Regions from separate parts of the Homo sapiens genome. Here region 1 is linked to region 2. Evidence: fine-mapped expression QTL. A gene starts in region 2. The other region holds a variant in brackets. All regions are shown on one strand. Distances are between the middles of the regions. Region 1 overlaps KLHL29 (kelch like family member 29). Region 2 holds the start of KLHL29 (kelch like family member 29).

The links. PIP is the estimated chance that this variant, and not a neighbour inherited with it, causes the effect.
Region 1: its variant is the best candidate, but not a certain one, in a credible set for the expression of KLHL29 in pancreas (GTEx, PIP 0.51).

Annotation. Positions count from the first base shown.
Region 1 is chr2:23,494,968-23,503,294 of GRCh38, reverse strand. All of the region lies in intron 2 of KLHL29 (kelch like family member 29), which reads right to left. It overlaps LOC105374325 (a long non-coding RNA gene), which reads left to right. Exons shown (of 2, transcript XR_939831.2): 2 at 1-1,370. Among named protein-coding and RNA genes, the nearest start is that of LINC02923, 110 kb to the right of the region's middle. RefSeq lists an enhancer at 5,340-6,023. The variant T/C (reference allele first, on the strand shown) is at 3,624.
Region 2 is chr2:23,380,510-23,388,836 of GRCh38, reverse strand. KLHL29 (kelch like family member 29) reads right to left here and starts at 3,658. Exons shown (of 14, transcript NM_052920.2): 1 at 3,057-3,658. LINC02923 (long intergenic non-protein coding RNA 2923) reads left to right here and starts at 1,519. Exons shown (of 6, transcript NR_187213.1): 1 at 1,519-7,616. RefSeq lists silencers at 1,772-1,821, 1,992-2,161, 2,182-2,301, 2,542-3,401, 3,572-3,921 and 1 more and enhancers at 5,425-5,719, 8,043-8,262.

The DNA of each region.
Region 1 (8,327 bases), 110 kb before region 2:
AGGGAATGATTTGTCAAAGGTCAGAGCAACAACAGAGGCAGAGCGAGGCCCAGGCCAGCCCGGAGCAGCCATCCCCTGCCAGGTCTACTTCACAGGACAGCAGCCTCCACTCAGATCTGCCTGCCCTTGCCGTAGCCCTGTGCATTTTAATTGCTTACTCCTTTTCTTATCATGCCCTGGGGTAATTTTACAAAGGGCACAACTACGACATTCAAACAAAACACATCTATTCTCAGGTTATTTTTCCTGATGTAAATCCTTATGATTAAAGAGGAAAATACAACTGTAGGTAAGACAGGCCAAAAAAAAGAAAAAGAAAAAAGAAATATTTCAAGCTTGGCCATCCCCAACAGACCTGAGTCCTGCTAGAATTTTAGTAACCAAGCCAGTGGAGCCAGCTAGAGAGGGCTGAAAAGGGAGAGACCTAGAAGGGGCTTGGACCACACTGCAGCCTGGCTTCTTCTATCTGGAAGTGTCCGTGGTGCTTGGAGAGACAGATGCAGGGTGCGGTTGGGAACCCCACAGGTCCCCCATAAGAATGTGGAGTGGCCACCAGCATCATGGGAATAAGACACACACTGCATCTAAAGAGATCAGCAAAGTGGCCCAGTGGTGGTTTGAATCCCTGCTGACCGCCTGCGCCTAGTGACAGGTGCTGGAAGGGCCAAACACGAGGGGGATGAATTGGTCATATAGGTAGATTTGCAGGAGTTTTATTTCATGCGGGTCAGAGGATGAAGGGGCACAGGGGCCAGAGCCGTCTCTGCCCTCTGCCAGGCCCTGTGCAAGTGTCCTCCCCCTTAGGGGCCAGAAAATCTGGGGCCCCCCAAAAGGTGGGTGGTAGGTGTGGGGAGAGCTGCTGAAACACCCGACTCCCTCCCGGGAGAACCGCCCACTAGTGAGCCTCCGAGCTGCACGGCAGCGTCTCAGGAACACACTGTTCTCTTTGTTGGGGCAGAAATATGTTCGATGCTGATTATGCAGACCGATGAGTAGGCCTCTCTCTCGCTCTCTCTCCCTCTAATCTGGAGTCCTCCTGCTCGGCGGGCACAATTGCATGCAAGCGATCCCGGAAAAAGCACAGAATGAATTTTTTTGCCATCCATTGTTCTGGAGGCATTGCGAATGTCTGACATTCCAGGTGTAGAGTTGTGTAGCTGACTAGACTTCAGAAAACCTCCCGGTCTGAGCCAGGAGCACTACAACCTGTGAAGAATGTGCACCCGGCCTGGCTACACAGCAACAGCACCCGATGGGCCCAGGAGCCAGCAGGAGACCTTTCTTGGAGGAAGGAGTCTTTTTTCTTTGGTTTGAAAATGCAGGTGATGTTTTAAAATTAAAATTAAATTAAGATGCATGTTAAAAACAAACCATCAGTGGCTGCTTCTGGAGGCAGGGGGATGCCTGGGAAGGGGCACGAGGGGGCTTTCTGGGCTGATGGGAATGCTCTTTTACTTGATAGGAATGTGGGTTACACAGATGTCTGCATTTGTCAGTGCAAAACTGATTGAACCGCATGCCAAAGATCCAGGCATTTCGTTGTAGAGAAGTTACATTAAAAACAATATTTAGAGGGGACCTATAGGCTGTCAGTGGTAACAAAATCTAGATTAATGAGTTTTCCAGATAAAAACAGTAACAGTTAAAAATCAGAAACGTTTTTAGTTTTACTAGTTTGAAGGAAAACGAAAAAACAGCAGCGTTCTAAAGCTGAGTGAACAAAGAACTCCAAATTACTTCAACTCTTTTGCTGACACAGGCTCTTCAACCTGAACATCGATGATCGGGCTGAGTGATAATGGAATTAAGCATTTTGACTCCAAAGTCCTGTCCTCGATGCCCATGCTATAGGTCTATTTCCACTGCTGTCTCTCGGCCGCGGCTATCTCCCACCCTCAGGGAACGTGCCTGCACCTGTATAGCCTCTTTCCCCGGGACCAGCTGACACTACAGGGCATCTCAATTAGGTTCAATCCAATTTGTATCAGCCCCCTATTCCAAAGCAGGAATAGGGGGCTGATACCAATTGGACCCGGTCTAGCAAGGAACAGACCCTGAGATCCCAACCTGGGCTGGAAGGGAATCTGCCCGACGTGTTCACGCGGGGAAGAGTTGGGGATTTCTGATTGGAGTCCGGGCCATCAGCCACCCTGAGTCTCAGAGTGGCTCCCGTGTCCCAGATCCCTGAGATGACCCAGTTCATCCCAGGACTGACACCCTCAAACTACTGCAGGAAGTAATTTCAGCTAATCAAGCTGCTCGTCAGCTCTCCAGACTGGGCCACCACTTTCCCAGACAGCACACACAGGCCGGGAGATGCTCCGCCGCAGACAAACAGATGCGATTTCCACTTTTGTTCTCATTAAACAGTAGCATAATCATGATTTATAAAAATATTCAAATCTTAAAAAGCATGTCAAAGTGCAACCTCGTGAACTGAACTCAAAAAAGCTACTCACTCCACGTGCAGGATTTGAAATCCTGATTTCTCTTTTATAAATTGTCGCAAGGGGATGAGGAGTTAGGGAAAGTAATCGGTTTTTAAAACTCTTTTCTTGGAAATAGTAAATTATGTTTCCAAACTCAAAATAGTCCAGTTTTTTTATAAACCTAAAAATCAACTTCCAAAGCTCCAAACAGGTTTTTAAATCAGAGAAACAGTGTTTAAAGTGGCTTCAGAGTCACAGTTGGTTGCCCATCACATATGCATCATGTCACTGCTATCAGGAGCTTGTCTGTTTCTCCATCCTTCTGCTGGGGAAGACAGGAGATGGCCAGGTGGGTGTCTCTACATATCAAGGGCAGTTTTCCTAACATTGGTCTTGACTTCTAGACCTACAAAACTAGGATCTAATAAAATGATACCAAGTGGTATGCAAATTCCTAAGGTTTAAACATAGCACATACACACCAAAATAAATGGAAATTCTAACAATTAAACTTTCTCCACGGCTTCCGATCACTTATCTGTTTGTTCTGACTCCTGAAGAGCCCTCTGTACTCCTTCCAGACATCTCAAGGCGCAGTCAAGTCTCCCTCTTCCATGAAGCCCTCCTGGACTCCCTACCTTCTGCACACCAGTGTTTGACACGAACGCACCACTGTGTCCTTCCTTGCTAAGGCACTGTCTGAATATCCTGCTGTTCCCTTCCAGACCATGCTGGGAAGGGCTGGGGAGAATATCTACTTTAGAGCAGAGATGTTTTCATTCACTGTTATCTTGCTGGCGGACAGCACAGGGCCTGCTGTACAGTTGGTACCAATACATATTTACAGGTCTAAGGAGGGTCATACGTAAATTAATTATCCTCACAACGCTAAAACCAAAGCAAATGCACTTAAATAAACCAATAACCTTCTATCCTAAAAAAAGCCAACACCTCCTACTCCTCTGTTCCCACCCATCTCAGCCAGTGGACAAAGACTATTTCTAGAGAATGCGCCTCAAATATTAAGGTTGAAGCGTCCTAAGCAGTCCATGGAGGAAGATGTGTCATAAACACAGCAGCTGCGCTGTTCCGCCCCACTCCTCCCTCATCTCCTGAGAGACTGCCCTGGGGTCTGGCAGACTCTGGATCTCCAAGTCATGCTTTACTTTCTCTGGGTGGGGGCCGACAGTGCTG[T/C]CTCTGTGTGCCCAAGGGGCTGAAGACCTTTCTCCTCTTCCCGCCTCAAACTTGTTCCAGCCATCCCTTTTCTCCTTAGCCTCATTGCCCAACTCTGAGAAGTGCAATTGCTGAAATCAGACGGTGATTCCGATTACTCCATAGCTACCCTAGAGCCAGGGAACGTCACCAAGTCACCTAAAGCCCAGCCACTGCTTGAGTCTGACAGCTCTGGAGCAAGAACATAAGTATCTATTCAGGTAGTCCTGCCTCACACCCACAGAAGCCAGGTATTTTCAATGCAATGTTGATCCAGTTGCCCTAATCTGTCCATTTCCTGTAAGCAGTGGTAGCTGGCCCCTCAATTTCCTCTCCAGTCACCCCAAAGAAGGGAGAGGTAGGGCTGCTCTAAACCATTCCACTGTCTGGCCTACAAGAAATCCCACCAGCATGGGCAGGAGGAGTGAGCCCTGAGCAGCCAGAAATCAAATGGAAACTGAGTACCCAGGCCTGGCTTCAGTGAGTATGCCAAAAAATCCAAAAATAATAAAGTCTTGCGAAACCATTTCCTCAGGCAGCTGCAGGAGAGGAAACTTCATGCAGCAAGAGAGAAAAGGGCTTTAGGGAAAACCTGGTAAGATTCCTCCTATGCCTAATATTTAATACAATTCTTATGGCCACGAAAGGAAACGTGATCGGTCGCAGGGACATCTGTAAGCGTTCAGCCATTCGGTCTGATTTTCAGGATAATTTCTCTCTGAGAGCTCCGTAGGCTCTGTCACTTTCAGCAATGGAAAGAGACACAGTGACAGGTCGCCCAGTCTTGGGAGGCATAGGGGCGGCCTCACCCAGGTTCTGCCTTGAATCTTCTAAGGTTACACTGTCCAATATGGTAGCTACTCGTCAATGTGACTATTTCAATTAACATTAATTTAGCTTAAATAGAATTCACAATTCAGTTCCCCAGTCACACGTGCCACATTCTAAGTGTTCAACAGCACTTGCCAGCACAGTATAGGACATCTGCATTACTGCAGAATTCTCAGTGTGGAAGGAAGCCCCGACCTTCCTAAATGTCCTAACGAAGGCGCTGAGAAAGCTGGGTGTTGGTCAGGGCAGGACTAAGTTCTTCCAGTCTGCTCCCCAACCCCGAAAACCTTCCTGAGCCTCAGCAGAGGGGCTTCCTTTGGCCCCAAAGGCCTGGAGCTCCCTGCTTGGCAGGGAGGGCAGGGCGAGGCCCCCAGGTAGTAGTCTCCTGCCTGATCGGGTGTTTGTTCTGATTTGTCACAGCCAGCTGGATGTCAGGGCACCTCACTGGTGCCGCAGCCTCCAGCCCACTCGGTATGGAGGCCAAGGTAGAGACAGCAGAATGGAGTCTACACTGGCACTTCAGAGAAAACAGATTTACTGCTGCTCATATCTCAGACTTCTTGATTTTCGGGGAATTCTTGCCTGCTTTCCTGGTGATGAGTTCTACATCCAAAACAAACAAACCTACCCTGCCCAATATATGAATAGGATGGTGTTCACTGTCAGTGTATAGGATAATATTATATTGTATGCTGGAAGTTTGCTAAGAGTAGATTTTGGTGCTTTTTTCACACACAGAAAAGGGTAACTAGGTGAGATGATGGATATGTTAAGTCACTTAACTATAATAACCATTTCACTATCTATAAGTTTATCAAAACATTGTGCTGCACACCTTAAATTAAAAAAGAAAAATCCTAGGATTCTGGCCAGAAATCTTGAGTCAGCCCTTCCCGTAGTTCCAGACAGATCTCTGTCTCCTTGAATACTTTCTACCCGGTGCTCCTGTAATACAGGCTGTCTTTCAGAACGGCATCCATACGGTTGGTTTCCCCTGACTTCAGTGCTGAGGCCCACTCGACACCTCCAGCTCACAGCTCAGTGCCCCTCAGGTCACATGCACGCACCAGCCTCAGGCCACCCTCTCTCTTGGCCCAGCTGGAATATTCCCCTCTCCTCCAAAGAGCTTAAGGCTATATTCCTTTAGGAGGCAGGGAAAGATGCTCCTGGGCTAATGAACCTTCCCTGGCTCTCCCAGCCCTTTGCTCCCTCCCTTCCCTAAATCCCTACAAAACTTTTAGGCTTGGCCCTGCCTCTCTGGGTGGAGGTGAGTTGGAGTCCATTTCTGTGATCTCCGTGCTCGGCCCAAAGGAGGCTTGGCTCATCTTGACCAAATGATTATTGCACCGTCTCCCCCAGCAGTCCTGTGCAACTAAAACGGGGTAACAGGGTCCAGGTATGTGGAACTCCAGAGCACGTGCACTGCTAGAGGGAGGGGCTGAGTGACTGCCCAACCCCAGGAAACCCTCGGCTCCCTGCTGTGGTGCTCTAGTCATGGAGGGACAGAGGAAGGAAAGAGAACCACATGGGCAGCCACAAAACCACAGAGAGATTGCCAAGGAGGAAAACAAAAAAGGAGTCACTTACTTTCATCCCGTTTTCAAGTAATCGCAGTTGCCAAGAAAGCAACCAACCCAGCGGAAATACCCACCGACTGAAGGCAGTCAGAAATCTCATGCCAACAGAAACAGCACTGCCTGGTAAAGGTGGCTATGATTGGACATTAAGTCATTCTAAAGGGCTCATAGTTTTTTTTTTTTTTCCTACCCTAGGAGAAACTCGTGATTCTTATATGGTTGCAGAACAAATATAACTGTGACTTATGTTTCTCAATTTACAGAATTGATTTCATGCGCTTTTGACAGGAATATGATATTTCTGACAATTGCAATTCTTCTTGACGCTGCAGTGTTTGGAGGGCAAATGTCCCATATGCCACACTCCCTGATTTGTTTTTAGGGCCTTCCAGGTATGTGAGAGACTCTCACAGAAATGCAAATGGATGGTATGTATGGATGCAGAAGTCTGAGTCCCTGGGTCTGCATTCAGTAAATAACTTTCCCCCAAGCATTGCCACAGAAGTCAGGGGAAGAGGAAGCATGCCAGAGAAATTTCCAAAGCAGAGACAGCGGTGGTCCCTGGGCCCCCTAGGGCAGCTCTGGCCCCTCTTGCAAATCTGGAGGCCACTGAGGCCTTGCTTCCTGCCCAGGCTGCACTGCCTCCCCTCCCTCCACCGCTGGCCCCGCTGAAGGTTAGAGGGGGTGCTGCTGCTGCACACTGGCGGGGTACCCTTTTTGGGGGAAAACATATCTTTCCGGTGGGAGCAGGATGGGGGAGAGGGAGGAGGTACCAGGGCTGTGCTCTTTCTGCATACCCCTTTCCAAATTTAAGAGGACCTGGAATGAATGGAGCAGGAAAACAGGCAGTTTCAATAGTCTGGTGATGTTTCAGCTCTTAAGTTCAGAGGTGGGATGGATCATGTGTGTTCATTTCATTGTTGTCATACAACTTATCTAAATGTTACATATCTTATTCTGAAAATACCATATTACATAAAAAATTATAAGTGGTATCCAGGGCTGTCTCGTGTCTAAGGATGCAAAACCAAATTTCTAAGATCAGTTTGGCTCCAGGAACAGCTGATATCCCACTGCTGCAGCGGGTAAGCCGGAGTCCTCTTTGGAACCCAGTGAGCCCCTCTCGTGCCCCCTGAGACTGAGCAGTGCCGTCCGGGCACTGTGAAGGACACACGGGTGGCCATGTTGAAAAGACAGTTCATCTGAGGTCATGCCATAGGTGACTGGCTGCAGCTCGGGCTGAGGGAGGAGCAGAGCGGCGCTGGCCAATTCGGCAGCAACTCCAGGATTTGGTTCGTAAGTAAAAACAAGCAGTGGGGGAAGAACAGCTGGTGTTGAGTCTGGTGCTAGGATTAGTCTGCAACGCTAATCACAAGAAGTGGAAAAAATTAGGAGGTCCTGCCTGCCAAGGAGGTTTTCAAACACATGCGCGTGCTACAGTCGTGGCGGGATTAGACTCTCCCAGTGCCAACAAGGTAGGCGTCCACAGCCATGAGCCGGAGCCTGTTCTGGGGTGTCAACCCCCGGAGCCCTGGCCCTGACACGATGCCAGGAGGGGCCGTCACTCTCGCTGGAGCTGTGGGTACAGTGGAGGTGGGTACGGTGCAGGCTTGACCCCAAAGCTCCTCTGTGATGTCCTGGAGAGAAGCTGGGACCAATGGGGGCTGGGAGAATGTCCCGAGTCCCAGGGGACATGGCAGGGTTGACTGTTATACCCACTGCCACCCAGGGCAGAAGATAAAGAGTATTGTACTGGTTTAAGTGAGATGACATTTCAGACATTCATGAAAACAAATGGGAATGTCCAGCCAAACATCAGAAGACACAACCTCAACACCTCTGCTGCAAAATTATCATGTGTCCCAGAGCCAGGTAGGGGCAATGACCTGGACCCACCTCACCAAAAAGCATGGCATGGGCACCAGGATTGGGGGGCTCCATTGACTTCCCTGCCACCTGCCTGACAGCCCACAGAGGCACCTCCTAGAACGTCACTACAGGGACCACCTCCTGCAGGCCCTCACATCTTTTACCATTTCCCTTAAAAATGGGGTTTCCAGCCAGGTACAGTGATGCACGCCTGTGATCCCAGCACTCTGGGAGACTGAGATGTGAAAATTGCTTGAGGCCAGGAGTTCGAGAAAATTGCTTGAGGCCAGGAGTTCAAGACTCCGTCTCCAAAAAATAAATAAAATACTCACAGAAATAAATAAAATAAAAGAGATTTCCTTCCAACAGAGGCACTGAGGCAGCACTGAAGGCCCAGGTGCTTGGGGCT
Region 2 (8,327 bases):
TACACATACATATCAAATGAGATGCCAAAAAATGACATTAGTATTAGGGGTGCCATTTGAGTTGATGAAAAAAAATTAACTCCTTTATATCTGTATGTAGCTGGGAATAGTGTAGGCTTTTAGAAACTAGCAGGAAAAAAGAAGGAGATACTTTAAACTAGGAATGGTTTGTAGCCAAATCAATTGATAAAAGAAGGAAAAAGATGGCACAACTAAAATTGATGCCAAAGATTTATAAGGTTGACTAAATAAAAATGAATGGATCACCATGGAAATGCATGAATACTGAAATAGGCAAGATTTGAATAGACTAATGATGTGCCTCACTTAAACTGACAGGTGTTGATAACAACGGTGACACTCAATCCACACCAACCGCCACACTTCCAACATGTTTATTCCTAGAAAACAGGCTGGATTTAGAGGTTCCTTTGGTAATAGTTTATAAGCAAAATGCATTTTCCGGTCTTAAAGTGACTGACTCAATGCTCATCTACTGGAAAAACAAAAAAAAGGTTTTTATCCATTTTGTTCCTAGATATGAGGAGCTGCAGTTAGCAAAAGTCATTCTCCTGGGCTCTACTAGTCTTTGTTTCAATAAACCTCCCACAAACCTGAATTCTCAGTCTTGCTTGTCTCCCACACTGAGTACTTGAAGTATGACCACCACTCATTAGAAACATAATTAAAAAGACACAACACTAGATCCCCACCCCCCATCACATTCAGATGAAAACCAATAACCCTTAATCTATTTGTTACCATGGCTACCATAGGATATTTTATTTCAGTAAAACTCTAGGTATTTCGTTTGGATTGCTGCTTGCAAATGAAAGTTGGAGACCTATAAATTTCCATAACCGAGAGACCGAGGAGAAGAAAATGTTTTTCTTAATCACAGGCAAATATGGTTTATAAGATGTTTGTGCAGAAAAGTTATTAAAATTGGTTAGATGCATCAGCCCATAAACCAATTTAAATGCCATTAAATTCATATAGAGTTTAAAAGGCACATGTGCTAGTAATTCCCTGATTTATAGCAGGGTGATAAATCAAGTGCACTCCAGCACAATGTATGGGACGGAGACTATTCATCAGTAGCACACAGCTCCATACCTGTATAAACACCTAGATTATGGACTAATCAAATACACGCATGCCAACCAGCCTTTAAAGTATTCACTAGTGCTTACTGGACATGTTTTCTCTAAGTGTCGGAAAGAACAATCTATAAAATTGTTCATTCTCCTCCCTCACAAAAAAATTAAAAAGCTCTATACCTTCTTTCCATAATAATAATAATAATAATAATAATAATAATAATAATAATAAATCAGGAATGAGGTGGGACAAGTCTGCTGTCATTCATCTGAAAATGAAGCAATTCCTCAAATCTGCCCTCCCAGGGCTGAGTTAGTGATAAGACCACACGGCGAGGAAGAAACTCTGTAGTGACTAGACAGATGACTTTAAAGAGACTGAAACTAGTATAAATACAGCCGTAACCAGGACAGATCTGTCATTGCAAGAGGAGTCCGAATCCCAGCGTTGCTGGACTGGAGAGAGGCTGGAACCTGCAGCAGCGGGCCGGGATGCCGCTGAGCTGCCGAAGTGGAAGTTTCGCAGGCAGCAGCAGCTCGGCGTCCTCCACGGTCTGGTCCCTCCAGCGCCGAGGTCTCGCCTAATGCTACATAAATACCTGCGTCCACGATTCGCCCGGGGCGCGCCGCGGCGCAAGCACGGGAGGGAGGGAGGAGAACGTTTGCAGAGCGGCGGGGATGGCAGCGGCGGCGGCGGCAGCTCCTTACCCATCAGCATCTCTGGGGGCCCGCGCGAGGGCCCGCCAACGGACCGCGTCTGCCGCTTGGTTCCACAGCCCAGGGACGACAACTGGCTTCTCAGCGGGTGGACCCAGGCATCCGAGACTCGCGCGTGGCCGCCACCCCCTCCTCCGAGACGGCTGGCCGCAGGCAGGCAGCGCGTCCCCGCCTTCCCCAGGCAACGCAGAGGCGACCTGCCCTAAGAGCCACCTCCGACCTACCCCGGCTCCCAGCCCCGCGCTCCGGCCCCAGGCGAGCACGTCCCTCCCTTGGGGCCCGGGGCCGACGCTGCCCAGCGCGGGCACCCGCGCGGCGACCGCAGATAACCCTAGCGCTCTCAGCCCGCTCCAGGCCACGGAGACCGGGACGCGAGCCCTGGGCTCCCCCGGCCCCCCGAGGCCATCGGGGCGCGCGTTCACACTCCCACACTACACATCTCCAGGTCCACCCTGTCCCACACATCAACAACCCCTCCCCAACGACACCACCTCCTGGCCGCTTCGCCGTCCCCGTGAGCTCTCCTTTCCGCGTCCCCCCACAACACGCTGGCACCCACAAGGTGTCAAGGGAAGTGTGCGTGTGTGTGTCGGGGTGGGGTGGGTCACAATAAGGTCTGTGCGGGTTCCCTCCCGACGGTTTTCGAGCTCATCTACCTCGAAAGTTACTTGGGATTGAGTAAAGAGACCCAGTCCCCAAATGCGAGATCAGAGGACGCGAGGGGCAGAAAACCCCAACCTGGCTTCTCGCTGCACAGAGGCGCGCACCTCCCCAAAGGACAGTGCGCGCGGCCGCCCCTGGGGGCCAGCCCTCCGTCGCCTCCAGGTCTCCTGCCCGGCCGGGGCCCTGGGCCGCTCAGGGGAACGTGGCCTGGAGAGGGGCGCGCGCCGCCGGGCCCAGCAGGGGGGCTGCTCCGGCCAGGGGTCACACAAGCCTCCAGCACCTCCGAACACCGTGACAGTGGCCCCAGGCAGCCCCGGTGCATACACACCCGGGGGCAGGAAGTTTTTTCCCCCCCTTTTTTTCCCCCTGGAGCAGCGCAGGCGCAAGGGCTCCTGCAGCCTGCGAGTCCAGACGCGGGAGGCTCCTGTCGCCGCCGCCGCCGCCGAAGCCGAGCCCAGGGTTCCGGGTTCCGGCCCCGCTCCCACGCCCGGCCCGGCCCGGCCCCACGCGGCGGCCAGGACCTGGGTCTCCCTCCGGCGCCGCATCCGAGGCGCTCCAGCCCGGCCCGGCTCTTACCTCCGGCGCGCGGCTCCGGCCCCGGCCCGACGCGCAGAGAGCCCGGGGTCGCGGGTGGGCGCAGGAGGGCTGATGGAGAGCGGACAGCGCCGGCGGGTAGCGGTGGCTGGGGCCGCTCGGGTCCTGGCCGGAGGAAACGGATCCAGGTCCTCCTCCTCGCGTTCCTGCTCTCCGCCTTCTCCCCTCGTTCCTCCTCCTCCTCCGCCGCCGCCGCCTCCCGGCAGCCCAGGGAGGATGCCCGGGAGAGGGAAGTCGGTCCTCCTGCCTGTCAGCCTGTGCGGCTATGAGCGGTGCGGCGCGGCTCTCATCGAGGCGGCGGCGGCGGCGGCGGCTCCGGCAGCATCGCCCCCGCCCTCTCCCCGCAGCCGCGGCGGCCGCGGGGCTGGGGCTGGCTCCGGGCTCGCGGCTCGGGCTCCGGGCGGGGGCTGCGCTCAAGCGCGGCGACCGCCGGGGCTGCGGACGGGCGCTGCGGAGCCGGGGCCGGGGCTGGAGCTGCGGCGAGATCCGCGGTGGCGGGGACGGCGGCGGCGGCGCGGGGGCTGGCGCGGCCGCGGCGCGGGGACCATGCTCCCTTCTGGCTCGCTCCGCTCCGGGTACCGTCTGCTTTAGCTGCGAGGGAGGCGGGCTTCGGCGCGCAGCCAGGGGCGGGCGGAGCCAATCACGGGCGCCCGAGTGGGCGGGGGTGGCGGGTGGGGGAGGCGGGGCCCTCTGGCCCGGCCCGGCCAGGCCGGGCCCCGTGCGCAGTTTCCCCGGCCCGAGGGATTCCCGGCTGCCGCGCGCCGGGTCCGAGGTTGGAGTGCTCGCGGGTGTGTCCGTCGGTCCGTCCGTCCGCCGCCCCCGCCCCCCGCGGTGGCCCCCGGCTCGCCTGGCTCCGCGGCCGCGCCCGGCAGACGCACGGCGCGTGGCACGGGCTGCTCCGCCGTGGCCTCCTGGCCTTGCTGGCCCAGGGTTGGGGGCCCGGGACTGAGGCGAGCTCCCCGTCTGCTCTCAACACCTGAGGAAACTGGCGGAAAAGTTTGAGAAGGAAAAAGTCCAATCGTCTTTCAGCTTCCGCCCTCTTTATGACACTCCAGCCTTGGAAAGGAGCAGGAATTGTCCACACCTCTGAAGGACCAGGGAGAGCCCTGCAAAGTGTCCACCAGCCTTCTGAGTCAGCCCTGCCTCTCCTGGGGCGCGCGACTTTTCTGTTCATACTGACCCTTAGGAATCCAGGAAGCCTTCTCTGTTTAACAGCCTGACCAGCCTTTGATGTCTATACCGACTACTCACCCCCACCACAGCTCGCTCTCTCTCACACTGTCTACACTGACTTCTCAGTCCCACCACCTCTCGGTCTACACATGCTGTCTACACAGACCCTAACTTCTAACCCTAATAGAAGAGATTTGGCCAGAGGCGTGTGGGACCCCCAATGAGGGCTTTTCCATTATGCTAGAATATTTCACTCTGGGCACAGTCTTCTCCACCCCGACCGCTCTCCTAATCTGGTTTTTATTCCCCGACCTCTCCCTCCTCCCCTACATCCCCTTTACCTGGTTTTGAGTTTCAGAGGAAATATCTGTACCTGCCCTCCTCCTCCACCCCTGTCTGAATGTAAAGGCCTGAGGGCCCAATCCTCATCCTCCACCCTCCCTCCGCTCCCCCGGGTAAAGGCCTGAGGCCTGAGGCCTTGCTAGAAATTGGAGTTGGGGTGCTGTAGGTAGTGTGGGGAGCTGGCTGTGGGGGCCCAGCTGGGAGGAGCTGGCCTGGGGAGGGCTTTGCCAGTCCTTGCCTCCATCTACCAGGGCCAAGGAGGACTGAGCCGGTAAATATTTTCTTCTCAGCTCCCCCCCTGTGATGTCTGATCCAGGCCTCTGCTCTCCTTGGCTGTAAACTCAGCGCACGGATTGTGTCTTCTTTAATATTTTGTAGGAAGCAGAGTACAGTGTCGTGGCTGATAAATAATAAATAATAATAATCTACTGAGGGTAGCAGGAGCACTGTCAGAAATGGAATGAGGACGCCGGGGAAATGGCCCACTAGTGTCAGAATAACTGCATTTCCTGGAAAAAACATCCAACAGAGTTTGTGTGTGTGAAGCCCGGGACTCAAGGGAGGGGACAGAGCGGAGCACTTCAGGGAGGAAGCCACCCTTCATGAGGACGACAGCCAGGAAAACTGGCGTGACCTTAAGAGAGGGTGACAGAGGTGCCGAAAAGGGGAGCAGGAGTGGGGGGGAGGGGGAGAAAAGCTCCCCAAGGGTCCTCAGACAACACCTGAAGGTGATCGATAGCTTTGGTTTGAGTACTATGTCCTTCAAATGGTATATGAAAAGTGATAGAAGAGTACTAGATAGCAAAATGGAAAAAAGAGGGATTTCTTGGGATTTCAAATTGATACACAGGTCAACCCAATGCAAAAAGAAGGAGAACAAAGCCACAGGCGTGTGTCTGTTCATCCACGCTGTAGGAAGCTGTCCTCTGAGATAATCTCCATGGATGCACTGACTGTGAACATGCAGAAGTCCACCCAGCCGTATTCTGGAGTAGCGCCCTATGTGACAGCTGTAGGCACTACAGAAATGTGGCCAAGGTTTGCAGGGTCTGGGATAGGTTAAGATCTGGCAATGTGAGGCACTCACAGTGTCTTACAGATGATTTTGAATGATCCTCAGTTGAAAGAAGAAAATAGGAACTCCAAGAATCCTTATTCAGCTACCTCTCCAGATGAAGGAGAAAGGATGCTCCCAATTTCCCTGCTGGCAGCATCAGAAAAGAGAGCTGTGCTGAGGTCTTATCCAGAGGAGGACCTACTCGGGCCATGGTGGTGCGAAGGGCGCTGGTTCTGGGGCACCGCAAACTCTTCAGGGCTGAAGTTTGGTAACAGCTCACCAGGGGAGCCAGCTTGTCAGGGAGAATGAGAAAAGCTGTGTGAATTAGACTCCCAGTGGGCTTGTCTACCCTGTCCTCACCCATCCTCGTTTTATCCAAGGCTTCCTCGTCATTGATGCTCTGCCCTGCTGGGAGCTGTTTAGTGTGGACACAGCCATTTATGAAGGGTCTGCGCTGGTCTGCATATGAGTTCCATTTCAGAGTGCTGTTGTTCACATGATCTGTCCCAGCGCATCTAGTGTCTTGGCAACATAAACTGGATTTGCATTGTGTCAGGGGTCTCCTCTCTCTCTCTCTCTACGTAGATCTTGCTGGTGTCTGGGATCTTTTTTGGGTCATTCTTTGCTCTACTCTGTGGCCCATGGGATGGGCCCCATGACTGGCATGGATCTCTCTGTGTGGTTCATGGGACTCGTGTGTTGTGCCCAGAAACCTCTTACACCATGGTCAAAGATTTCTCCATGAAACACAGGATTGACTTGGTGGTGTGTTCTCCAAAAGCCAACCCTCCCTGTCCTGAGCCCCAATCTGGGCACTGGGATCAGGACTAATGTGTACACTCCAAGCAGATGGGTAGTGAAGGAGCGGACTCATAGTGCATAGGGAAGTGGACTGGAACACTCCAGGACATCCATTCCCCGCTCAGATCATAGACCATTATCTGTGCAGTCAATCAGACAAGGACTTGTACTGGAAAGGCCACCATCACCCAAGGAGGAACCAGAGGAAGTCACATCAGGAACACCTGGGGTGCCACATAAACCCACAGTGGCCAAGGTGGACTTCTGTCCTTGTCTGTGTTTATGATAATAGCCACAACAAAAGGACCTTTACCCAGTGGCTACTATATGTCAGGCACTGTACCAAGAACTCTACCCATGATATCTTGTTAATCCTCACAGCAACCTGTGGAATTGGTGTTATCAGCCCCCAAAACTGAGTTCCAGAGAGGGTAGATGAGAACCTGCAATCACACAGTAAGTGACAGTGCTGGAATTTCAGCCTGATTGTCCCAAAGCCTCTGTTCTTTTTACCCCACCAAACACACAAATGCAGTTTCTTTTGTCATTAGCCCAGTGCTTTTCCCTTGGAGTAGATACAGTAGATGCTGATTTTTGCCTTCATCAGCAAAAGTCTTTACCCCAGACACATAACTGGAGATCAGTCATAGAACAGAGAGCACTAATGTAGAAGGGCACAGGTCCCTTTGATTACTGAACACTCAGGTCACTCGGAAGAGTGGAAGCCTCATCAGAAACCTTCGGGTTTGACAGGACATCTGTTTCCAGGAGCACGGTGGGTGTAAACAGAGCAGCTGCCAGCCTCTGTCCTGGTTGGGGTTTTGTGTTTGCTGGTTTTTCTTTTTTTTTTTTTTTAAACACATTATACTCTATTAAAACCACCCCTATTTGGCATCAAAAGCATTAATAAATCCCACATAAGGCACAGTCCCTCCAGTGGTTAATCAATCCATAAAAATCTATTTAGCACCTACTGTGTGTCCAGCATTTCAATCCCATGACGTTGATTAAAGCAGGAAGTAAGGAGTCACAGCTGCCAAATTTTCACCATGGCCACCGTGCTCTGTGATGTGTCACAAAGGCATTTGCCAATCATGCAATCAACCATTTACTGAGAACCTGCTTTGTTGCTCAACTCTGTGCTGGCGACTCTCAGGAAGACAGGGAAGGTATAAGGCGGCTTATACGCCAATCATTTTTACCCTGCCTATTTTCCAAAAAGTGATCGAGGTTTCCTAATACAATACTTGGCTCTTGTTCTTGACAAGGGTTAAGATAACAGCAGTTGTTATCAAGAAATATAACTTCGTGCTCACCTGTGGGGAAGAGACTCTCAAGTGTTGTGGGGTTAAGGGGACGATTCCCTAAGAGCTAGGCTGGTCAGGATGCCTTCCTGGAGGAGGAAGGTCTAAGACTGGACCTGACAAGGCAGTTTCTGTGGGAGGCAGAGGGAGCCTAGACCAGGCAGAGGGGAAGGCAGGGGCCAGGAGGTCAGGGGAGGGAGGATTGCTGGATTGGAGGACTCATTACCATATGATCGTTTCTAAAACACGACTTGTTGTTAAGTCATTTCCTTTGGGTGAAAGTGAAAGTGTATTTCCTTCCCCCCTCCTCCCACCACCCCCAGCCCGCCAAATCAGTGAAATATTAGATTCTAAGAGTCAGAATGAAACCAGTGGTGTCTTTTTTTGGCATTCTCAATGGCAAGAATTCAGCACCTTTTTTTAGTACCACTTGTTTGCAGGTGGCAGGAGTGCTAATTAGACAGAGCCACTAACAATTTTCCTGGGTGGCTCTGATTCCCAAACTGACATGAGACACTGCTTGGGCGTTTAAGAGAGCAGCTTCCGCTCTCTCCATTGGTAATGGGATTCTTCATC